Homo sapiens: one gene and its partners. The protein of the gene in region 5 interacts with the protein of the main gene of each other region in a pairwise test. Each region holds a gene or a part of one and is shown on either strand. Other genes may lie near its edges.

Region 1 (3,097 bases), on a different chromosome or scaffold from region 5:
GGAAGGGACTTAGACTAACTGCTGCATTTTGCAAATAAGAAAATTTGGTTGTCCCAAGAGGACTACTGCTCAAGGTCACACAGTCCGGAATTGGCAGAGCTGGGATTCTGATTTTCATCCTTACTGATTTAAAAGACCATGCTTGTTTTTCCCTCTGCACGAGCTTGCATTTGTCTTGCATTGGTCCGTCAATGGCAAATCTGAAAGTTTGCTTACTCAAAGCAATTCCTGGAACTGCTTTTCAAAAGGATGGAAAACAGGAAGTTAAAAGTGTTTGCCTCTAGGAAGCAGGGCTGGGGTTAAGAGTTAGGAAGACTGTCAGCTTCTTCCTTTAAACCCTCTGGCACTATTTGGTTTATCTAGTGTGTCAAAGCCCTCAATGACCATTCCTACCTCCTGAGCTGAGGACCTGCAAGGATCCAGGTCTGAATACTTCCTTAGGCTCTGATCCCCAATCCATCATCCATCAGTCCATCCATTCAATCCACCTACCCACCCACTCATTCAATGCAAGAAATGTTCATGGAATACCTATTATGTGCCATGCATGATGCCAGGGACAAAGTAGGAACCTGATCTACTCCTGGGGACCAAGGAGGCTTCCTTTCGAGAAGTGATCTGGAGCTGAGGTGTGGGGGCTGAGTAAGAGTAACCTAGGTGGAGGGTGCTCCTAACTTTAAGAACAGTCTCTGTGCTGGGCCTGTGGAGGGAGTGTGCTGCGTACCCAAAAGACTTGAGGAAAGACCAGACTGGAGACCAGAATACCAGCAGGAAATGGCTGCCATAGTCACACAAGCAAGATGATGGTCACTTGGACTAGGGTGGGTGCCAGAGGAGACAGAAACATGAAATTATGAGATGATTTGTAGCTAGAATCAACAGTACTTGCTGACTAACTGAATGTGGGAAGTGGAGTAAGAAAGAAAGACAATACTAGCACAATTCCCAGGCTTTAAGTTGAAGCAATCAAGGGGATGATGGTGCCATTTACAGAAATGACAAGACTAAAAGAGCAAGCCTGGTAGAAAGTGGGTATGTTCTGCTATTTTGGAAAGACTGTGTAAGTCATCTGAGCTGGCACTATTAGTTCTCTTTTCCTGGAGGAGAAAATGAAAGAGGTATACATAAGAGATCTAGGATACCTCTGAACTAAGTAGAAAAGGCACAAAGATGTATGATGCTATCACAGGAATCTGAAAGAACACACTGAATGAATGCATAAGAGGAATGAGGCAGGGAGGGACTGAAGGCTCACACTTTGTAGCATTATCTCCGCTCCCCACCACACCACCACCACCATTCTCTCATTCTCTCACTTCTGCTCATTTTCCCAGCTGGGAGCCATATCTACATTTATGTAGCTCTTCTGTGAATTAATCAAGGAATATTCCCACGGTCCCTTCTCTAAGCCAAGCCCAGTGCTGAGTAGGACTGTACCAGCATAAATCACTGATCCCCCATCGTGAGACATAAGGCAAGAAAAGATGAGAGCTGGCTTGTGGATTCTAGGGCAGTGGTTCTCAAGCCTGGCTGCACAATAAAGTCACACTGGGGGCTTTTAGAACGTGCCACTACCCTGGCCCCACACTCGAGAGTTCTGAGTTCATTGATCTGGAGTAGTGCTAAGATATTGATATTTTTGTTCTAATATGCAGTTAGGGGCTGAAAACCATGGGCCTAGGGGAACTTAGAGATAAGAGGTTCATATAACAAAAAGACAGGGAGGGGGTCATGTCCACCAATTCAGGGCACAGTGAGAAAAGCCAGAATGAGAATAACTTTTACAACGGGCCGACAGGAGACAACCTGTCTAGAGAGGACAAAATGTGTAGGGACACTGAAGGTGGAAATAAGAGACAGGTCACAGACCAAGGAGAGCCTTGAATGCTAGGTCTCCATGTTTTCTCTGCATCACAGAGGTAACAGGGAGGTACTGAAAGTTCATAAACAAGAAATACAGTGTATTAAGGAAATGACCAAGGCAATGTGGAATTCACAGTCCTTGAAATCTGACCCCCAACAACTCTCCAGCCCCACCTTCTGCCACTCACCTCCCTTCCTGTGTCACTAAGAAGAAAGGGACTTGTGGTTCCCCATGCACACAATGCAAATTCTCACCTTGAAACCTTTGCCCATGCTAGAATGCTTTCTACTTCAAAGCTCTGTTCTACTCATCTGTTAAGATTCAGCCATTTTCAGCTGCCTGTCCTGATGTCCGAGCTCACCTAGGAATCCCATCTCTGAGCTCCTGTAGCTTTCTGGGATGCCATCTGTGCCTCTGCCCTGAGAATACCATCCTATAATTGGCTAGCCATGTGTCTGTAGCCCACCACCATGCTGGAGAGCTCCTAGGAGCCAAGGGCTGGATCTGACTCCTGAGTCCTCAGTATGTGGCTCAGGGCCAGGCCATGGGCAGAGTCAGTATTGTCTATTGAATGAATGACCAATCCTCAGTACTATAAGAATAGTATTGCAAGCCAAGCTCCGCTTTCCCATAAAGGAAGCTGTCCCTGGGCCAAAAACTCAGGGTTGGTTGGCTGGACAAACAGAATCAGTCAGGAGTGGGGCCAGGCACCTAGAGGGAGCCTTACCAGGTTGACTGCATCCCAGTGGTCAATGGGGCGGTGGGCTGTATTCAGGTCACCCAGAATGATCACATGGCTGAAAAACACAATGTGGGATTGTTAGAAAGGGGTGCAGCAGTCCTGGCCCATATACTTTTTCCTGGGCCCAAGAGCTCAGACAGGCCCTCTCCCATATTGAGGCTTCCTAGCCAACAGCAACTCATAACAGCCTACCTCTCCAATCTTACCACAAACTTGCTGCCTTTCATATCTGACCAACCCAATTCTGATCTCCAAAGGTGACAGTGTTCCATGTTTGACATGACTGCCTCACTAATCAGGAGCCAATGGGCATTTTTCTTGTCCTTCAAAGCTGAGCTCAGATACCACCTCCCCTTGATTGCTCTAACCCACCCTCACTTTCCTGTCCTCCGCTGGAACAAGACTTTCCTTTGCTCCCACGCACTTTACCATTCTCATCTCATTTTACCCTTAAAACTATTGTGTAGGGTAGAGATTCATATATTCATTTG
Region 2 (3,500 bases), on a different chromosome or scaffold from region 5:
ACTAAGTACCCTTAAGTTTAAATTGTTGCAAAGGCTGTAATGTCCAGCATATTACCAATATTGACAATTTAAAATAATTTTTTTTTTTTTTGAGACAGAGTCTTACTCTATCCTCCAGGCTGGAGTGCAGTGGCGCGATCTTGGCTCACTGCAACCTCTGCCTCCCGGGTTCAAGCGATTCTCATGCCTCAGCCTCCCAAGTAGCTGGAATTACAGGTGCCCTCCACCACACCCAGCTAATTTTTGTATTTTTAGTAAAGACGGGGTTTCGCCATGTTGGCCAGGCTGGTCTTGAACTCCTGACCTCAGGTGATCCTCCCGCCTCGGCCTCCCAAAGTGTTGGGATTACAGGTATGAGCCACCATGCCCAGCCTAAAATAAAATTATTAGATTACTCTTAAATATATCCAGTGGCATAAATACTACATACACCAAAATGATGAGATACCTAGTTGCTATCTTTTAAAAATACAAGAAAAAGCTCTTCTTAGCAGTCAGAAATTTTATTATGTCATCCCTTTTTCTCTTTGAACATATATTTTTTATTTTTCTCAGAATTTCAGCCTAATGTAATATATTTTTATGCTTTAAAGTATGTTATTAGCTGGGCACAGTGGCTCACACCTGTAATCCCAGTGCTTTGGGAGGCAAAGGCTAGCAGATCACTTGAGCCCAGGGGTTTGAGAACAGCCTGGCCAACATAGCAAAACCCCATCTCTACTAAAAATACAAAAAAATTAGGTAGGTGTGGTGGCATACACCTACAGTCCTAGCTACCCAGGAGGCTGAGGTGGGAGGATCACCTGAGCCAAGGAAGCTGAGGCTTCAGTGAGCCCTGATCGCAACATGGTACTCTAGCCTGGGTGACAGACCAAGAAACTATCTCAAAAAATAAAAATAAAATCTGTTATTAACCATCATCTCTGCAACAACAATGAAAGTTCATCTAAATTTAAATTAAAATTTCCTTTAAATTCCTTTGACCGGAAGGCTTTAAAGTGAAAAAGCTTTCTTTAGGATAGAGAAATCTTTTAATCAGTTGTATATTAGTCACTGTAATATAATTTCTAATAAAATAAACATGCTCGGCAAAATTTAATTGGGAATCACCTATTAATGAAATCGATGGAGATTCCTTCCCCTTATTAGTTCGTATATCTGTGGATTACTATAATTCCAGCAATAAGAAATAGTTCAGCAACAATTCGTGACTCTGTTTTTTGAGGCAGGGTCTGGCTCTGTTGCCCAGGCTGGAGTGCAGTGTCAAGATCTCAGTTCACTGCAGCCTTGAACTCCTAGCCTCAAGTGATCCTCCACCTCAGCCTTCCAAGTAGCTGGGACTACAGGCACACACCACCACACCCAGCTAATTTTTGTATTTTTTTGTAGAGATGAGGTTTCACCATACTTCTCAGGCTGGTCTTGAACTCCTGAGCTCAAGCGATCCTCCCACCTCACCCTCCCAAAGTACTGAGATTACAGGGGTGAGCCACTATGCCAGCTGACTCCTTTCCATTCTGACAGATGTAAACACTGAGAAATCTTCTTCACATAAACAACAGGGGCCAGGCGCAGTGGCTCACGCCTGTAATCCCAGCACTTTGGGAGGCTGAGGCAGGTGGATCATGAGGGCAGGAGTTCGAGACCAGCCTGGCCAACATAGTGAAACCCTGTCTCTACTAAAAATACAAAAATTAGCCGGGTGGGGTGGCATGCGCTTGTAGTCCCAGCTACTCAGGAGGCTGAGGCAGGAGAATCGCTTGAACCTGGGAGGCAGAGGTTGCAGTGAGCCGAGACCAGGCCATTGCACTCCAGCCTGGGTGACAGAGTGAGACTCCGTCTCAAAAAAAAAAAAAAAAAAAAAAAAACTAAAAGTATAATTGGATTGCTTGTAACACAAAGGATAAATGCTTGAGGGGACAGATACAGATACTCCATTTTCCATTTTCCATGATGTGATTATTGACCATCACATGCCTATATCAAAACATCTCATGGACTCCATGAATATATTTACCTAACTCTGTAACCACAAAAATTAAAAATTATTTTAAAAAATGTTTTAGGCTTATTCATAATTTTTCTTAAAATATTAAATATAGTCTACCAATGCAAAAAACGAAGAAAAAGAATACTTGTGGAAGATGATGATCTAAAAACCAATTCCTTTAAAAGTTTCCTTGCTTGCACTCCTTTGGAAAGTTCTGATGTACCCCAGGGGTAGAGTGACTACCCACAGCTTTAAGGGGATTTTCCAGATCCTCAGCTTTTTTGTTTTAAGAGACAGGGTTTCACTGTCTTGCCCATGATCATAGCTCACTGCAGCCTTAGCCTCCTGGGCTCAAATGATCCTCCTGCCTCAGCCTCCTGAGTAGTGAGGCATGCAAAACCATATCCAGCTGATTTTTTAAAAATCTTTTGTAGGGATGGGATCTCGCTGTGTTGCCCAAGCTGGTTTCAAATGCCTGGCCTCAAGCAGTCCTCCCACCTTGGCCTCCCAAAGCAGTGGGATTACAGGCATCAGCCATTGTGACTGCCCAGATTCTCAGCTTTTGCAAATGTTCTAAGTATAAGCCTGTGATAGGAGTCCCCTTTGCCCTCTGGCAGCTTCTCAGCTTAAATTCCAAGGATCCCCACTGGGATCCCTCAAGCTTTGAGAGGAACCTTCTTACCCCACTGTGAGATGTGTCAGTCTGTGTGCTACTGTCCTGGGTTTCTGGGTGAGGGACAGCCAGCTGGCTCTTCCAGTCCCGAAGCTGGCGGGAGAGAACCTCCAGAATGACAAGAGAGCTCAGCAGGTTATCTTCCAAGTCATGTCGAGACAAGGCAGTCAGATCTGGAGGCCGGCTGCAGCAGAAAGAGAAGAACATGACGAAAAGAAAAGGAGGGGAAGGGATGGGAGGGGAAGGTCCAGGGTAATGGAACTCACGAGGTGCAAGGACATAGGGGCGCTTACCCACACAGGAGCTGCTCTGTCTCAGAAGTACTGTGCTTGGTGCCAACCAGGCCTGTCTGGGATGTGTTTGTACTCTTTTCCTGTGGTGCTGAAGGAGTAAACCAAGTCCCCACCGAGCAAGTAGAGAAAGGGGTAGTGCCAATTGCAGCATCCCGAAGCATCGAGGGAAGGGATAAGCTTTGGCGGAGATTTTCCAGCATGACGGAGGTATTTACACCTTTTTCCAGCCAGGCCAGTGGGGACATCCAAGACTCTGTATCAGAGCCAAGAATCCTACCAACATCTTCTACTGCTGGGCCTGGAGCTTCTTGGGATTCCATTTCTACTAGATTTGGTGTCAGGCATGTGGACAGAATATCTTCCACACTTGAGACAAGTGCTTGATCTTCTGTTTCAGACTCCTTAGGATGTGTGGGAAACCTCATTTCTCTTTCCTCCATAGCTCCATGCTCTACAATTTCCTCCTCTGGGTCCACATGATTGACACGGAAATCTGCTGCCAAGGCAGTTGAAGGGGAAAGCCAGAGAACAGAGGAAGGCAAGA
Region 3 (3,500 bases), on a different chromosome or scaffold from region 5:
GGTAAATGGAGTAACAGTGTTCTAAGTTTGTTTACAATGGAGGTGGACACTGGTAAAGGTATCTGTTAACACTGGGCTTTTGTATAAGTTAAGGATGCTTGAGAATTTCTAGGACATCCACTGAAGAACTGAACAGAAGTATATAATTTTCTAACTAGTAAAGGGGAAAAACAAGACTATAATGATGCATTTTTAAAAATAAACCCAAGGGCATCCAAGATGGCCAAATATGAAAGGCTTCAGTCTGCAGCTCCCAGTGTGACTGATGCAGAAGACAGGTGATTTCTGCGTTTCCAACTGAGGTACCTGGTTCATCTCGTTGGGACTGGTTGGACAGTGGGTGCAGCCCACAAAGGGCGAGCCGAAGCAGGGTGGGGCATTGCCTCACCCAGGAAGTGCAAGAGTAGGGAGATTACCCATTCCTAGCCAAAGGAAGCCGTGACAGACTGTACCAGGAAAATCCAGACACTGCTACCCAAACACTGCGCTTTTCCAATGGTCTCAGCAAGTGGCACACCAGGAGATTATATCCCATGCCTGGCTCAGTGGGTCCCATGCCCATGGAGCCTTGCTCACTGCTAGCGCAGCAGTCCAAGATTGAACTGCAAGGTGGCAGCCTGGCTGAGGGAGGGGCATCTGCCATTGCTGAGGCTTGAGTAGGTAAACAAAGCGGCAGGAAAGCTTGAACTGGGTAGAGCCCACCGCAGCTCAAAGAGGCCTGCCTGCCTCTGTAGACTCCACCTCTGGGGGCAGGGCATAGCTGAACAAAAGGCAGCAGAAACTTCTGCAGACTTAAATGTCCCTGTCTGACAGCTCTGAAGACAGCAGTGGTTCTCCCAGCATGGTGTTTGAGCTCTGAGAACGGACAGACTGCCTACTCAAGTGGGTCCCTGACCTCCGTGTAGCCTAACTGGGAGACACCTCCCAGTAGGGCCCGACTGACACCTCATACAGCCAGGTGCCCCTCTGAGATGAAGATTTCAGAGGAAAGATCAGGCAGCAATATTTGCTGTTCTGCAGCCTCTGCTGGCGATACCCAGGCAAACAGGGTCTGGAGTGGACCTCCAGCAAACTCCCACAGACCTGCAGCTGAGGGACCTAACTGTTAGAAGGAAAACTAACAAACAGAAAGGAAAAGCATCAACATTAACAAAAAGGACATCCACACCAAAACCCTATCTGTAGGTCACCATCATCAAAGACCAAAGGAAGATAAAACTACAAAGATGGGGAGAAACCAGAGCAGAAAAGCTGAAAATTCCAAAAATCAAAGCGCCTCTTCTCCTCCAAAGGATCGCAGCTCCTCACTAGCAACAGAACAAAGCTGGATGGAGAATGACTTTGACGAGTTGACAGAAGTAGGCTTCAGAAGGTCGGTAATAACAAACTTCTCCAAGCTAAAGGAGGATGTTCAAACCCATCACAAGGAAGCTAAAAACCTTGAAAAAAGATTAGATGAATAGCTTACTAGAATAAACAGTGTAAAGAAGACCTTAAATGACCGGATGGAGCTGAAAACCATGGCACGAGAACTATGTGACACATGCACAAGCTTCAGTAGCTGATTTGATCAAGTGGCAGAAAGGGTATCAGTGATTGAAGATCAAATTAATGAAATGAAGCGAGAAGAGAAGTTTAGAGAAAAAAGTAAAAAGGAATGAACAAAGCCTCCAAGAAATATGGGACTATGTGAAAAGACCAAATCTATGTCTGTTTGGTGTACCCAAAAGTGATGGGGGGAATGGAACCAAGCTGGAAAACACTCCTCAGGATATTATCCAGGAGAACTTCCCCAACCTAGCAAGACAGGCCAACATTCAAATTCAGGAAATACAGAGAACACCACAAAGATACTCCTCGAGAAGAGCAACCCTAGGACACATAAGTGTCAGATTCACCAAGGTTGAAATGAAGGAAAAAATGTTAAGGGCAGCCAGAGAGAAAGCTCGGGTTACCCACAAAGGGAAGCCCATCAGACTAACAGCAGATCTCTTGGCCGAAACCCTACAAGCCAGAAGAGAGTGGGGGCCAATATTCAACATTCTTAAAGAAAAGAATTTTCAGTCCAGAATTTCATATCCAGCCAAACTAAGCTTCATAAATGAAGGAGAAATAAAATCCTTTACAGACAAGCAAATGCAAAGAGATTGTGTCACCACCAGGCCTGCCTTACAAGAGCTCCTGAAGGAAGCACTAAACATGGAAAGGAACAACCAGTACCAGCCACTGCAAAAACATGCCAAATTGTAAAGACCATCAATGCTAGGAAGAAATTGCATCAACTAATGGGCAAAATAACCAACTAACATCATAATGACAGGATCAGATTCACACATAACAATATTAACCTTAAATGTAAATGGGCTAAATGCCCCAATTAAAAGACACAGACTGGCAAATCGGATAAAGAGTCAAGACCCATCAGTGTGCTGTATTCAGGAGACCCATCTCATGTGCAGAGACACACATAGGCTCAAAATAAAGGGATGGAGGAAGATCTACCAAGCAAATGGAAAGCAAAAAAAAGCAGGGGTTGCAATCCTAGTCTCTGATAAAACAGACTTTAAACCAGCAAAGATCAAAAGAGATAAAGAAGACCATTACATAATGGTAAAGGGATCAATTCAACAAGAAGAGCTAACTATCCTAAATATACACGCACCCAATACAGGAGCACCCAGATTCATAAAGCAAGTCCTTAGAGACCTACAAAGAGACTTAGACTCCCACACAATAATAATAGGAGACTTTAACACCCTACTGTCAATATGAGACAGATCAACAAGACAGAAGGTTAACAAGGATATCCAGGACTTGAACTCAGCTCTGCACCAAGCAGACCTAATAGACATCTACAGAACTCTCCACCCCAAATCAATAGAATATACATTCTTCTCAGCACCACATCACACTTATTCAAAAATTGACCACTTAGTTGGAAGTAAAGCACTCCTCAGCAAATGTAAAACAACAGAAATCACAACAAACTGTCTCTCAGACCACAGTGCAGTCAAATTAGAACTCAGGATTAAGAAACTCACTCAAAACCGCACAACTACATGGAAACTGAACAACCTGCTCCTGAATGACTACTGTGTAAATAACAAAATGAAGGCAGAAATAAAGATGTTCTTTGAAACCAATGAGAACAAAGACACAACATACCAGAATCTTGGAACCAACCCAAATGTCCATCAATGATAGACTGGATTAAGAAAATGTGGCACATATACACCATGGAATACTATGCAGCCATTAAAAAGAATGAGTTCATGTCCTTTGTAGGGACATGGATAAAGCTGGAAACCATCATTCTGAGCAAACTATCGCAAGGATAGAAAACCAAACACTGCATGTTCTCACTCATAGGTGGGAACTGAACAATGAGAACACTTGGACACAGGAAGGGGAACATCACACACCAGGGCCTGTCGTGGGGTGGGGGGATGGGGGAGGGATAGCATTAGGAGAAGTACCTAATGTAAACGACGAGTTAATGG
Region 4 (3,500 bases), on a different chromosome or scaffold from region 5:
TGAAGGCTTGGATAGTAGAAAAACTTAAGTTTCTATTTATGTACCTCATGTAAACCCAATTCCAATTTCATCACCATTTCAGAAAGATGACGATTTTCTAATTTGAGTGACTCCAGCTGATCCAAAATCTCCTGAAAAGGGGAAAACAGAAAAAAATAAATATAACATGTAAATCACATGCATCTTACAAAATTTTTCCACATGGAATTTTCATTAGGCTAAGTCATATTCTTCATTTATATATATATACATATACATATTTATATATATATATACATATATATATGTACGTGTGTGTGTGTATATATATATATATATATATATATATATATGGACTTTCTAAAAAGATTTTTAAGATGTTATTAAGGTGAATGAACATGAATGGGATGAAGATATCATTCTAATAGGATAAATCAGGTGACAAAGCAGCAAAGTTTCAATCCACTGAACCCCTTAAATCCCTACCCATTCTCCTGTGCTGGCCTCCTCCAATTTGGCTTCTACCTGCAACGTCACATGGAATTGTACTTTATTCACAAAATAACAACTTATATTCAGTTCTCATTCCCCTCAGCTTTTGTGCTTGACCATTCCCATTTGAAAATATTCCTTCTTTCCTTGGCTTGGCAAAAACTATCTGATTTCCCTCCTCACTGCTCCTTTTTTTAAGCTTCATTCCAACATCTTTTTTACACTAAATGAGAAGTATCCTAAGTTTGGTTTGAGTCACTTCTCTTCTTACGCTATGCTTTCTCACTATAATCATTAAGTCTCTCAGGGGGTTTCAAATGTCACCATGAAGAAAGGACAGCCACAGCTAAATGCCTAATCCTGATTTTAATCTTCAACTCCAGGCCTTCTGTGGAATTGACTATTACCCATACAAAATTCCAGCCTTTATTCCAAACAAATGTGTCAAACCAATGTCCTCTCCACCAGTTTCCCCAGTCTGTGTACTTTTCACACAAATTCATCATCCTTCACCAAACTTGCTCCCTGTCTTTTCTCTATTTCATTAAAAAGCATCACTTTCCATCAGTTGCCTAAGTTTAAATCCTGTGGAGCACCATTCCTTAACTCTGCCTACCTCACCTTCCCTGCCAATCAAATACAATGCCCAGTCATTTTTACCAGCCCAGTATCTCCAGAATTCATCCATTTCCCTCTGCCTCCCTTGCCCACTGCTCAGGCCACCATCTTACCACTGTAACAGCATCTGGGTGCTCTGTCTCCCTGCTTATTCTCCATTTAAGGACCACTGAATTTTACTCCTGCTTGCAGCCATTCCCTACTGACCTCAAGGTCACAGTATAACTCCTTTACGTGGCTAACGTAGCCCTTCAGCAGCCAGTCCCTGCTTTCCAGTCTCATACCTTCCACTCATCCCACTTGTACTCTAGTTTCAACCACAGCAAGCGTGTTTCTACTCTCTCTTAGAGACCTCTGTATTTTCCTGTGCCTGAAACACTTTTCCTCCCCATCACCCAGCTTGCTCCTAACTTAGCTTTGCTATCACACCTTCTGGAAGGCCTTTGCAGCGAGTGGTCTAGATTCAGGCTGCTTGTGATCTCTAGTGACTCTCACCATACACCACTGATACAGTCACTTTACTTGTCTGTGTCTACTCTCACCTCCCCACCATGCTCACTAAACTCTTTGCTAGCCAGCATACTCTCAGCTCAAAGCAGGTATCTAATAAAAATTCACTGAATTAAATATTATGAAAATTATGTCTTTAATCAACTCCATCTTTAAAACAAATTTCAAATTTAAAAAAGGTTTTGTTCAGGCTTCACCTTATGCTCTACTGCTTTGTCTTCTGCCTTTTGCATCTCTGCTCTGAGTCGCTTTTCCATGTCTGAGGAAGAACCTTTGGTGGAAGCAATAGTGATATCTCGCTGATGTAACTCCTGAGTTAGATGGGAGATTTCCATCTTCATTCCTTCTAGTGCAGAACTGTAACTTTGTTCACCCTGTAAAATCTGTTCTTTCAACTATAAAGAAGCAGAAAAGAAAGCACCAAAAGTTAAGAGAAAGCATTTAGATAGAATAATATGTTACTAGCTAATAAAATAAAAGTTCACCTTATCTCAAGACATTAAATTTCTCTTAAATTAAATCTGCAGAAAAATTAGCAATTTACCAAGTTGCATATCTGTACTGAAGGTCAGGTGGTTATACCTACAATCATTTATTATACCTCAAAACAGGGAGAGATGGGTTATTCAAGTGCTGAGGACCAGAATCAAGGTCCATGCACACAATTTAGAGGAGAGTACTTGTGACCTTCATTCTTTTTTTTAGTTGTGAATCTAAAAGTTTTGCTCATATGGTATCTTAGTCCACAGGATAACAAATAGAACAAGAGGAAGTAAGGAACTAGAAGTAATCTTAAAGAAGTAACAAAAAATACAAATCAAACAAATAGGACAGTTAGGGCCCATTCATATAGACACAAACAGCTCTGCATACCTCAATAGCTGACAAGGATACTAACTACATCATAGCACAGGAGACAATACATAAATACTATCTTTAGGCAATAAGAAAATATTAAGTGACAGTTCATATTTTTTTGCAAGCAACAGAGTGTATGTCTTTTAGAAAACTTTTCATCAAAACATGTTTAAAATAAAGTTTTTGAGTTCAAAGGGGACAGCCTTCAATTATCTTAAAAATATTTATTGGGCATCAGGGGCGATGCCAAAGAAAGAAGGCACTTTCCCTATGCACATTCCACAAACTCTTCCACTCCTAAATATCAAGTGGTCCCTTGAACTACATTTTTTTCTCATTAAAAATAACCCCTATAATCTCCCAATCCACAGCTTTGTCCATAAACACATACAATTTTGCAATCCTAGGTATGCAGATTTTTACCTTCTTAATCTCTGCTTTGTATTCATTGTTATGTGCTTCCATCCTCTTCAGTTCTTCATATTTTTCCATTAGTTCTTGGCTCAGCTGTTTACACGTTGCACTCACAGATTCCAAACTGTATGACAAAAATAAGATCCCATACTTAAAACCAAAATCCTGAAACCTATAAATTGGACTATCTAATTTACATTCTTGATATCCAAAAAATATCCAGCCAATATCTTAAACATCACCTCAGTCATTTAAAATATTACTAAAAAGCCAATCAATAAAAAAACTGTGATAAAAATGTAAACTGTTGTCCCAACGTCAAAAATAATAAACTTAATTTTAGTCAAACGGAAGAGTACACATATACTTCAATAATAACAAAGACTATCTCAAGTACTCCAAGTATTCCAAAAGGAATAAAGCAGAAAATATGTGTGTGTATGCATGTTTGTGTATTTAACATGTAGATAAAAGTAAGAAAATACTTACTGGTTTCCAAAACCAGAAATAAATGTAAAAACAAAAAATGTATTACTTAAAGATAACCTAAAAAGTGTAAAATGATATTTCTCTTGTTGTTTGCCTAAAGGTTAACAGTTCATGTTAAAAGCAATTTTATCTTTTACATA
Region 5 (3,500 bases):
GTGGTGTTTCTTTGGAGCAAAAAAAAAAAAAAATCTGCTCTTCAAACATAATTTGCCACCTTATTCTTCTCAAGGGGCAACAGCTTGAAATTAAAACTAAATTTGAAATTAATGAAGCACATTCTGGAGGTGGCATTCATTTCTAAAGTAATAAATTACTTGTATCAACCTCAGAGACAGCAGTTCCTGTCTGTCAATTAATATGTCTTATGCTTCTCCTACCCCTAATGCATTTCTTAACAGACAGATTCACAATTTAAATTAAGCAAGCATTTTTTACTCATTACATTTTTGAGGCTCAATCTTTAATAAATATAAAGTATAAAAACATCAATAAAATTTTTACCAAGTAAAAAGAAAAGTACGTCCATTGTAATAAGGGAAAAACAAGATTTTGTGGCTTTTTTTTTTTCTTTCTTCCTTCTGGAAAAGCAGGTCTCAGAAAAGCTTAGAGGTAGGTTTCCTGGCAGGGATAGGTGTGGGTTCGTTCCAGTTGAGAGGAAATACCCTGACCAGCTACCACCCAGCCCCCAGCCCTGTCCCCCATGTGAACACTCAGCCGTTCTCAGCCACCTGTGCACACACACTCTCCATGCAGAATTATGTCACAACAAGTTCAGGAAAATTGGTATGCGGTGCTCATTCCTGATGTATAAATATATACAAGACCTTCCAGTGGACCTTACAAATGTCAAAGTGTTTGCTCTTTAGACTACTTTGTCAATATTTACTCAGTATAAGCTTCATGGGCATCCAACAGAGATCCTGTCTTTCTGGAAGCGATGTAACTGGGATGTAAATCCAGCATGCATTCCCACGCAGGTGGAGGGCAGGCCACGCGCCTGCAGGTTCTGGAAGATGCACGTCCAGAGACACAGAGCCCAGAGAATACTTGCGTTAATGCAACAGGGTGTTTTTTTTGTTTTTGTTTTTGTTTTCATTCTCTTGCATTCGGTGACTTGGGTTATTCCTTACTAAACTGATCTGCCACTGCATACTGCATCAGGGTAGTTTTTTGGACAGTGAGGAGTGGCCAGCCCTGTGGCTAGGAACAATTTCAAGGTAAAGGAAAAGGAGAAATAAAGTGACTTTGTCCTGTCAGCTTCTAAATACTTGTTTGCTTCAAAAGGCCAGTGGGGAAGTGTGTTAAGTGGTTGGAACGTTGCAGTGCTAATTGCAAGGCTGATTTCTACAAAAAGCTCTTAAGAAAGGAAGGGAAGTTTTGTTTGTGGAATTGACTCCACCAGCTTTAAAGATTTGCCCCTGTTCCATTTCACATCAGAAAACCAACAACAACAATAAACAAACAAACAAACAAAAACAGTGAAATGAGTCCCTTGAAGTCAAGCAGATAGGCCCCCCTCATTCCTTCCAGGACAGGTGTGATTCTTTTGCTCCTAAGCCCCCTACTTTGAGTGCCAAGATTCCTAAGCCAAGACACATGGAATCCCAACACTGATGTAATGTGAACTTGGATGGGAACTGCCCCAGGTACACACATCAGCTGCAGGGAGGGGGATACTTCTGCTCATTTGCCAACTACTAAGCAAGAGTCTTGTCCAGGAGCCATGGATGTTCTTTACAAATGACCAGAAGAGAGTGCCCTGCTGCAGTCAGCTGAGTGTGAAGTGCTGTGGGGAACCTCAAGTTTAAGGCCATGCACTTTGAGATGACAAATAAAGACAGCAAAAGCTCTGTTCCTAGGGCCAAGACCAAATGCTTAGGGAAATACGGCGCTGGCCAATGGAGGCTCCTGTGCTAGCCACAGTGAAGACTGTGAATGCATGTGTTGGAAAAGAATAGGAAAAGAAAAAGAAAAGAAGACATCTCACTCTCCCTCACCTGCCCCCCGACAGACTTCCTCGGCATGCAGCACATTCTAGAAATCTGGACTCAAAACTCCAATGGAGTGGCAGGCCTGGAGGAAGAACAGCCGAGGTAGAATAACCAAGTGTCCCAATTTGCCTGGAGCTGTCCTGGTTTCAGCACTGAATGTCTTGCATCCTGGGAATTTACTCAGTCTTATGCAAACTGAAGGATGGCTTGTTACCCTAGCTGGGGCACACAGTATGACTGAGGTCAGAGCATCCAGGTGGGTCTGCAACCTCTCTTATAATCCTCTCGGGGAACAGCTGGAGCAGAGTAGGCTGGGTTTAGCTAGACACAGCCCACTGTCTGCAGAAGTGCACCGGGTGCATGCATATATGATGTTTCCATAGTACGGTTTTATTGTAAACGGGGAAAGAGGAGGAAATCCCATGGCTGGTGTCCCTCCCACTGAGACTCAAGGAAATGCCCAGGCCTGTGTAGATGGGTGAAGATATCAAAGCCCCTTCTGTCCTGGAGATGCCTCTTGGAGCCACAGTCTGCAATACAAACCCCACACCCTGGGGATTTTGCTCCTATTACAGTGGCTCCCATGAAATTAAGTCTGAGAGAGAAATGGCCCCACAGCAGCCACTACGAGAGGACACCAGCAGCCAGAAGCAGCAGAGCCAATAGTGGACATGAAAGAGTCCTCTGTGGGTGAAGGCCACCAGGTGAGAGGGAAACCCAGGGGCTCTGCCAGCCCACATTCCACCCAGGGGCAATGCATCTCCCCATGGCCAGAGCCTTCCCCACCCCCACTGCACAAGCACCAAACCAGCCCAGGCCGTCCGGAGCACCCCTCCCCAACACATGCACCATGAATGATATGACCAGCTCCTCTCCTGGGCTGGCCCACAACACGCTCTGATATGCTTTGTAAACTACACAGCAGGGTCAGAATGTCATCAGTCTGATGACTGAGGAGGAAATTAATATGGAAAGAAAAGGCCAACCTCTCAACCTCCCTGGTGGAACAAGATCCAACTCAGAGGAGAATTAAAAGGCTCTGGTGCCAAGCAGAACTGGGTCCTGGAGAGACCTGGCCTCACCGCACACCCCACTCCTGACCATGTCATGGTTTCTGAGGGTTCTTTCAAGCGCACACCCTCGTGGCTGTGACGTGGGCCTCACTCCCTGTTCAAATGACCATTTTCTTTTCCGATCTGAAGGTGAGAAGTATTTCCTTAGGTGGAGCCTAAGACTTTTACCCACTGGTTCTCCCCTCCACATTAAAATAAAGGGAAGGGCTGGGCGCAGTGGCTCATTCCTGTAATCCCAGCACTTTGGGAGGCCAAGGCAGGCAGACTGCCTGAGCTCAGGAGTTTGAGACCACCTTCGGCAACATGGTAAAACCCCATCTCTACTAAAATACAAAAAAATTAGCCAGACATGGTGGCACATGCCTGCAGTCCCAGTTACTCCAGAGGCTGAGGCAGGCGAATCACTTGAACCCGGAGGTGGAGGGTGCAAGTGAGCCATGACCCACCACTGCACTCTAGCCTGGGCAACAAAGCAAAATCCTATCTCCAAAAATAAATACATAAAAATAAAGGGAAAATTCCCATCTTCCACCATGCTTTGCAATAATTTCACTACTCTGAGAATATTTATACTCTTGATTACTGAACTTT
Region 6 (3,500 bases), on a different chromosome or scaffold from region 5:
TTTTTAGTAGAGACGGGAAGGGTTTCACCAAGTTGGCCAGGCTGGTCTCGAACTCCTGACCTCCGGTGATCCACCCATGTTGGCCTCCCAAAGAGGCCACCACGCCTGGCCTCTTTTTCTTTGAGACGGAGTCTCACTCTGTTGCCAGGCTAGAGTGCAGTGGCATGATCTTGGCTCACTGCAACCTCCGCCTCCCGGGTTCAAGCAGTTCTCCTGCCTCAGCCTCCCGAGTAGCTGGGATTACAGGTGCCCACCACCATGCCTGGCTAGTTTTTATATTTTTAGTAGAGATGGGGGATGGGGAAGGGGGGGCGGGGGGCGTTTCACCAAGTTGGCCAGGCTGGTCTCAAACTCCTGACCTCCGGAGATCCACCCATGTTGGCCTCCCAAAGTGCTGGGATTACAGGGTTGAGCCACCAAGCCCCGCCTGGAATTATATTTCTTTGAAGTGGGAAATCAAGTTCAGCTGGGCAAAGTATGTAACAATTGAAGACCATCATACTTGACTTTACCAGATACTACCACATTATTCCCTTGGATTAAGATACTGAAGACTTTGTAAAAGGCAGATTTATCAGAAATGAGTGGTGCCCAAAGGAATATGACACAAAACAGGTCTGTCAGGAGGAGTAGGAAGGGAAAGGTCCCGGGAGAGGTCTTGAACATAGGCTGCAGGCTGCTGCTCTTAGAAGAATGCAGAAGTAGAGGACTCTAGGCTCCCAGAGAGGCCTTGGTAAAAGGCCTCAGGGTGGTGCTTTGTTAAAAAACAAAGGCTACCTCAGGGTGGTGCTTCATTCTTCCTTGGATGTAACTTTATATAAAACATGAAGAAGAAGCACTTTTTCCGAATTTGAAATTATTCTGAGCAATCCGTTCTTTAAATTTGCTTTCGGCTGGGCACGGTGACTCACGCCTCTAATCCCAGCACTTTGGGAGGCCGAGGCGGTCGGATCACTTGAGGTCAGGAGTTCAAGACCAGCTTGGCCAACATGGTGAAACCCTGTCTCTACTAAAAATACAAAAAATTTAGCCAGGCATGGGGGCGCATGCCTGTAATCCCAGCTACTGTGGAGGCTGAGGCGGGAGAATCACTTGAACCTGGGACACAGAATTTGCATTGAGCCAAATCATGCCACTGCACTCCAACCTGGGCAACAGAGTGAGACTCTGTCTCAAAAGAAAAAAAAATTTGCTTTACTTTGTTTACAGTGATAACATTCAGCAATATCTGATGACCAATAATGTACCGGAGGCAGCCTCCACTCTAGTGTCTATGGCAGAACTTGACATTAAACTTCAGGAATCATCTTGTACTCATCTTCTTGGTTTCATGAGAGCCACAGTTAAATTCTGGCATAAAATTCTCAAGGACAAGCTTACAAGGTAGGGAATTTACCCATATTTTGTGGTAATTGCTTTCCGATGGGTATTTGGTGATCATTTGGTGATGTACTGAAATGTATGTGTTACTTTTCCATTGCAGTGATTTTGAGGAAATTTTAGCACAGCTTCATTGGCCATTCATCGCACCCCCTCAATCACAAACTGTTGGCTTAAGTCGACCTGCCAGTGCCCCGGAGATATACAGTTACCTGGAGACACTGTTTTGTCAGCTTTTGAAACTACAAACCTCGTATCTTTGTTGCAGCTGAAAACTTACTAAAATTTCTTTTTTCTAGAATGGGTTTGTGGCTAGAGAGTAAAACTTTTTCAAAGTGGCCAAGAAAGCCAAATAAGAATCCTGTGTTTGGACTTGGTCTGTAAATGTCCACTGAGTGGTGGACTGTACTCTTGCAAAGTGAATTGCTTGTAGGTGTGAGGGCTGTAAGGAAGAGTTCCGGGATACATGACTGATCCAAGTTCATAGCACAAAAAGGTCTCTTGGGGCAACAGAACAAATGGGCAATTGGGAGGAAACCTTTAGTGTCATAGCGTGAATTTAATCAAATGATACTTGAATTTTTTTTGTTACTATTTTAGGAAAGATTTATAGATTAATTCTAATACCATTTTTGTGCTTTTTTTTTTTTTTTTTTGAGATGGAGTTTCGCTCTTGTTGCCCAGGCTGGAATGAAGTGGCGTGATCTCATGATCTCGGCTCACCACAGCCTCCACCTCCCGGGTTCAAGCGATTCTCCTGCCTCAGCCTCCCGAGTAGCTGGGATTACAGGCGTGCACCACTATGCCCAGCTAATTTTGTATTTTTAGTAGAGACGGGGTTTTTCCATGTTGGTCAGGCTGGCCTCGAACTCCTGACCTCAGGTGATCCACCCGCCTCAGCTTCCCAAAGTGCTGGGATTACAGGTGAGAGCCACTGCACCTGGCTCATTTTTGTGCTTTTTTTAAAGACATGGTCTCACTTTGTCACCCAGGCTGAAGTGCAGTGGTGCAGTCATGGCTCACTGCAGCCTTGACCACCCAGGCTCAGTTGATTCTCCCACCTCTTCTTCCTGTGTAGCTGGGACTACAGGCACGTGCCACCATGCCCCGCTAATTTTTGTTGTTTTTTGTAGAGATAGGGTTTTGCCGTATTGCCTAGGCACGTCTCAAATTCCTGTGAAGTGGCCCAAGTGATTAGCCTGCTTCAGCCTCCCAAAGTGCTGGGATTACAGGCATGATTCACTATCATCATGCCTGGCTTTTTGTGCATTTTAACTGAATGTATATTCAATATAAAGAATTAACTGTATGTTTATTCAATATAAAATTAGGTTACATATTATTTGCATCATAATTAACTCTACTGAGTATCTGATACATTTGTTGGAAAAATTTATTGTGTGTGTATACATACATATGTGTGTGTATATTAGGTATGCTTTTGATTCTTTTTCCTTGACTTGATTATGTCAGAGATGAATTACTTACTGAGCCAAAGCAACTCCCAGAAAAATACTCTCTTCCTGCCTCCCCTTCTGTCATCCTGCCCATCCAGGTTATGCTGACTCCTCTTCAGAAGAGGTTCAGGTATCACTTCAGAGGGAACCGGCAGACTAATGTGTTAAGCAAGGTGTGTTTTGCCAGCTCTTGTCCTTGGTTTTTATTGGTAACAAATGTTAGAGTTTCTATACCTTTGCTGGTTTAAGTTAAAATCTGACTCTCTTCACATTTCTGTTTTTTTTCTAAAGGGCTACATTCCTGTTTTGTTACTGCTGTTCATACATATAATTGAGGACTTGTGTTCATATACTGTAGGAAAAATGGTATTTCCGCTCTTGGGCATCAGATATTGCTGAGTTATCATTGCAAAACAAAGCAAAGCAAATAGTAAGCACTTGGTATTTCTTTTCTTTTTTTTTTTTTGTGAGTTGGAGTCTCGCTCTGTCACCCAGGCTGGAGTGCAGTGGCACAATCTCTGCTCACTGCAACCTCCACCTCCCAGGTTCAAGCGATTCTCCTGCCTCAGCCTCCCAAGTAGCTGGGACTACAGGCACATGTCACCACACTGGACTAATTTTTGTAATTTTAGTAGAGATGGGTTTCACCATATTGGTCAGGCT
Region 7 (3,106 bases), on a different chromosome or scaffold from region 5:
CTCCAACAAAAATGCTCCCATTGTTGAACATATTTTACCTAAGTATATAACCTATCTGGAAGCTGAAAGTCTCCAAAGCTATTGCTTCCTAGGACTGCTGTGTCCTAACAGCTGGCATATGAATGCCTCATACTGGTTTGCCCTAGACTCAAAAAACTTTTTAAAGGATTCTAACAATATACAAACTCTGCTTCCACAAACAAATACAAGTGACGACATGATATGCTGCAGTTCACATATAGCAACTCAAAATGCCACCAAGTCTAAATATTAGGTTAACATCTTCAATAGCTAGTTTGCTCAGAACAAATGTAAACTATTTTGATGATAACTACAAAAGCGGCAAAATCAAAAGTTGGTGCTTTAAATTATTCACACGCACATTATAAAAGGGAAAGGGAATACAATTCAGAAGTATTTTAAAGGCCCAAACCAAAAAAAGATGTTCAAGATGCTAGATTAATGAAAAACTTTCACAAATAAATTTGACAACAATGAAATTACAGATCTTGAAAAATGTGTCCTCTTTCTTTAATGTTAGTGACAGTTCTATACAGCACAGACATAACTGAAGAAACACATTACTTTGATTTGGGTTTATGTATTGTACTTTTAATCACTTACTGAGAATATTTCAAATTTATATTCTCATCAGGAAAATGTAAAAAAGATACTGATATATATTCTATGATTTTTATGCCACAAACACCCCTGTTATGAGATCATTTAATAGGAAAACAATTATACTGACATCTCTTGTTCCATTTTCCCATTAGATATATACATACAACTTCAAGATAGTTTAAAAATAATCATTCAGGTTATTCTAAAATTTTGCCATAAAATTAGCAAAGTATGCCTTCTGTTAATTGCTAAAACCAATATTTCACATATAAAAGCATGTGATCTCATTCTACATGCAGCTCCATTTCTGAAAATTAAAAACCTATCATTTCATGGGCTAAATTATAGAACTTTCTATATTCGAAGAACTACTTCATAAGACTGTTATGACAAATGCTTTTTATTACATAATATTTAGTAGTCATGCTCAATCAACAAGGTCAACAGAAACTTGTGAATATTCTGCTAAATAATCTAGCACACTAATACATACACGTTTTTCAGTGCAGTAACATTGAAATAATCCTTGTATCCTTTATTCAGACAGTTCTGCAAACTAGGGAATAAATAAAGATACGAACACACAAGAACTTTTTTTTAAAGCAGGTAAGATTAACAGAGATTAAAATTTATTGATAAGCCAAAGACTGACCCTGATCCTAGTAACACCAAACTCAAAGTAGCTCCTGGTCAGAAAGTGCAGTAAAGGGTGCATGAAAGCATCCGCTCTATGGTCTCCTCAGTGGTCTATTTTAGGTGTGGTTTTTTTTTTTTTTTTTACTGCTAAACTATATTAACTCATAATAAAAAGTAACTAGTCAAAATTTAGAACATTCTGATCAAAATGGGTCTGCACATGCCTTTCAAACACCTGCTGGTCATAGTCAGGAGGGAACTGCTCGCTGCACATCGGGCACACCTTCCAGTGACTTTCAACATGTTCTTCAAATTTGCTCTGATCATAGTTAGGAGGAAACATTAACTCACAGAGGGGACACTTCTTGTGAACATCAAAGCTTAAAGAGAAAAATGAAAGAATTACATGTTTCTAATAAATGTAGAACAACAACTTGTCCATATATGACAAGGTTCCATTTATCTAGTTAGCTGATATTCATACTAAACAACCTACCTTAAAAGTCTTTACTCCAGAAACATTTCTCTGCTTCTAAATGCTTGCTGTAGACAATTGTGTAACCCATTTATAGAGCCTCTAAATTCAATTTTACAATTAGATTAACAAAACCGTTTTTCCCCCTTAAAACCTCCCAAATCCAATCACAATTACGTGAAATTAGTACCAAGAATTCTTCCACGTTTAACAGAAAATGCCTTTTGTAAGACTGTAAGGATAAATACAACTCATAACTTCCCACCAGTGCATTTGGTTTAATAGCAAAGTTTTTATGGCACTGGTTCTCAAATGCTTGTATGCATCAGAATCAGTCGGAGGACATGTTTTTGTTTTTGGCCAAAAATACTGTATTTTTAACCAGCAAGATCATTGGTGCATTATTATACAACATTAGGTGTTTTTTGCAAAACTAGTTCCCATCCCCAAACAACAGACAATACATGCATTTGAATGACATTTTAGGAACAGTAAATATTCTTTTAAATACTGCAAGTTAAAAATGTTTTCTGACAAAACTCCCTAAATCGGAGGACATGTTAAAACACATATTGCTGGGCCTACGCCTGGTGTTTCTGGTTCAGCTAGGCCAGGCCCTACACATGTGCATTTCTAATGAGTTCCCAAGGACCACCTTTGAGAACCACTGGCCGATATAACCCAAATTCTACAAAGTAAAGAAGAAAACTACCTGGAATCAAAGCAAAAGCCTGTCCCATGCCCACGTAAATGTTGACTTGGAGGATCAGGAGCAGTAGGCACATTCTCATCTTCCTAGGGGAAAAATAATTTTGGAACTTTTAAGAAAAGTAAAACCAAATATAAATTCCTTAATTCAATCAAGCACATACTGACAGTATAAAAGAAGATTACACTTCAGGAAATTTTCTCTCTGCTATCATTTAATTAGACTTTCAAATAAACATGTTTGAAACTTTGCAGAGTATTTCACTATAAACTAACACTGTGGTGTTCTTGAAATAAAAAGCAGTATTCAGAGGAATAGAGACATACCATTTACACATACCATTTACCATACCTGTATGTGTAAATGAAGCTGAGAACAGTAGACCTTTTCAAACCTATATACGTAGGTAACTTTTACTGACTTTATCATTCTGCAGACTGGGTGACCAGTTTTTTGCTTTTTTTTTTTTTGAGATGGAGTCATCACTCTGTCACCCAGGCTGGAGTGCAGTGGCGCGATCTCGGCTGACTGCAACCCCTGCCTCCTGGGTTCAAGCAATTCTTATGCCTCAGCCTCCTGAGTAGCTGGGATTATAGGTGTGCACCACCATGCCCAGCTAATTTTTGTATTTTTTAGTAGAGACAGGGTTTCACCATGTTAGC

The links.
Region 1: the proteins of TSHZ3 (region 5) and APEX2 interact in binary tests that used the Homo sapiens proteins (3 or more experiments, as listed by UniProt).
Region 2: the proteins of TSHZ3 (region 5) and SPAG5 interact in binary tests that used the Homo sapiens proteins (3 or more experiments, as listed by UniProt).
Region 3: the proteins of TSHZ3 (region 5) and CEP70 interact in binary tests that used the Homo sapiens proteins (3 or more experiments, as listed by UniProt).
Region 4: the proteins of TSHZ3 (region 5) and CEP63 interact in binary tests that used the Homo sapiens proteins (3 or more experiments, as listed by UniProt).
Region 6: the proteins of TSHZ3 (region 5) and RINT1 interact in binary tests that used the Homo sapiens proteins (3 or more experiments, as listed by UniProt).
Region 7: the proteins of TSHZ3 (region 5) and TAX1BP1 interact in binary tests that used the Homo sapiens proteins (3 or more experiments, as listed by UniProt).

The regions. Positions count from the first base shown.
Region 1 is NC_000023.11:55,003,363-55,006,459, reverse strand, and holds part of APEX2 (DNA-(apurinic or apyrimidinic site) endonuclease 2), read right to left. Parts: intron 2,662-3,097; coding exon 2,592-2,661; intron 1-2,591. UniProt on the Homo sapiens protein: Functions as a weak apurinic/apyrimidinic (AP) endodeoxyribonuclease in the DNA base excision repair (BER) pathway of DNA lesions induced by oxidative and alkylating agents.
Region 2 is NC_000017.11:28,589,026-28,592,525, forward strand, and holds part of SPAG5 (sperm-associated antigen 5), read right to left. Parts: coding exon 2,957-3,500; intron 2,848-2,956; coding exon 2,673-2,847; intron 1-2,672. UniProt on the Homo sapiens protein: Essential component of the mitotic spindle required for normal chromosome segregation and progression into anaphase. Required for chromosome alignment, normal timing of sister chromatid segregation, and maintenance of spindle pole architecture.
Region 3 is NC_000003.12:138,573,761-138,577,260, forward strand, and holds part of CEP70 (centrosomal protein of 70 kDa), read right to left. Parts: intron 1-3,500.
Region 4 is NC_000003.12:134,548,557-134,552,056, reverse strand, and holds part of CEP63 (centrosomal protein of 63 kDa), read right to left. Parts: intron 2,996-3,500; coding exon 2,881-2,995; intron 1,995-2,880; coding exon 1,797-1,994; intron 132-1,796; coding exon 45-131; intron 1-44. UniProt on the Homo sapiens protein: Required for normal spindle assembly.
Region 5 is NC_000019.10:31,279,937-31,283,436, forward strand, and holds part of TSHZ3 (teashirt homolog 3), read right to left. Parts: intron 1-3,500. UniProt on the Homo sapiens protein: Transcriptional regulator involved in developmental processes. Functions in association with APBB1, SET and HDAC factors as a transcriptional repressor, that inhibits the expression of CASP4.
Region 6 is NC_000007.14:105,545,701-105,549,200, forward strand, and holds part of RINT1 (RAD50-interacting protein 1), read left to right. Parts: intron 1-1,209; coding exon 1,210-1,383; intron 1,384-1,483; coding exon 1,484-1,633; intron 1,634-2,848; exon of another isoform or gene 2,849-2,853; coding exon 2,854-3,010; intron 3,011-3,128; exon of another isoform or gene 3,129-3,267; intron 3,268-3,500. UniProt on the Homo sapiens protein: Involved in regulation of membrane traffic between the Golgi and the endoplasmic reticulum (ER); the function is proposed to depend on its association in the NRZ complex which is believed to play a role in SNARE assembly at the ER.
Region 7 is NC_000007.14:27,827,162-27,830,267, reverse strand, and holds the end of TAX1BP1 (tax1-binding protein 1), read right to left. Parts: intron 2,531-3,106; coding exon 2,448-2,530; intron 1,641-2,447; coding exon 1,439-1,640; 3' UTR 501-1,438; downstream 1-500.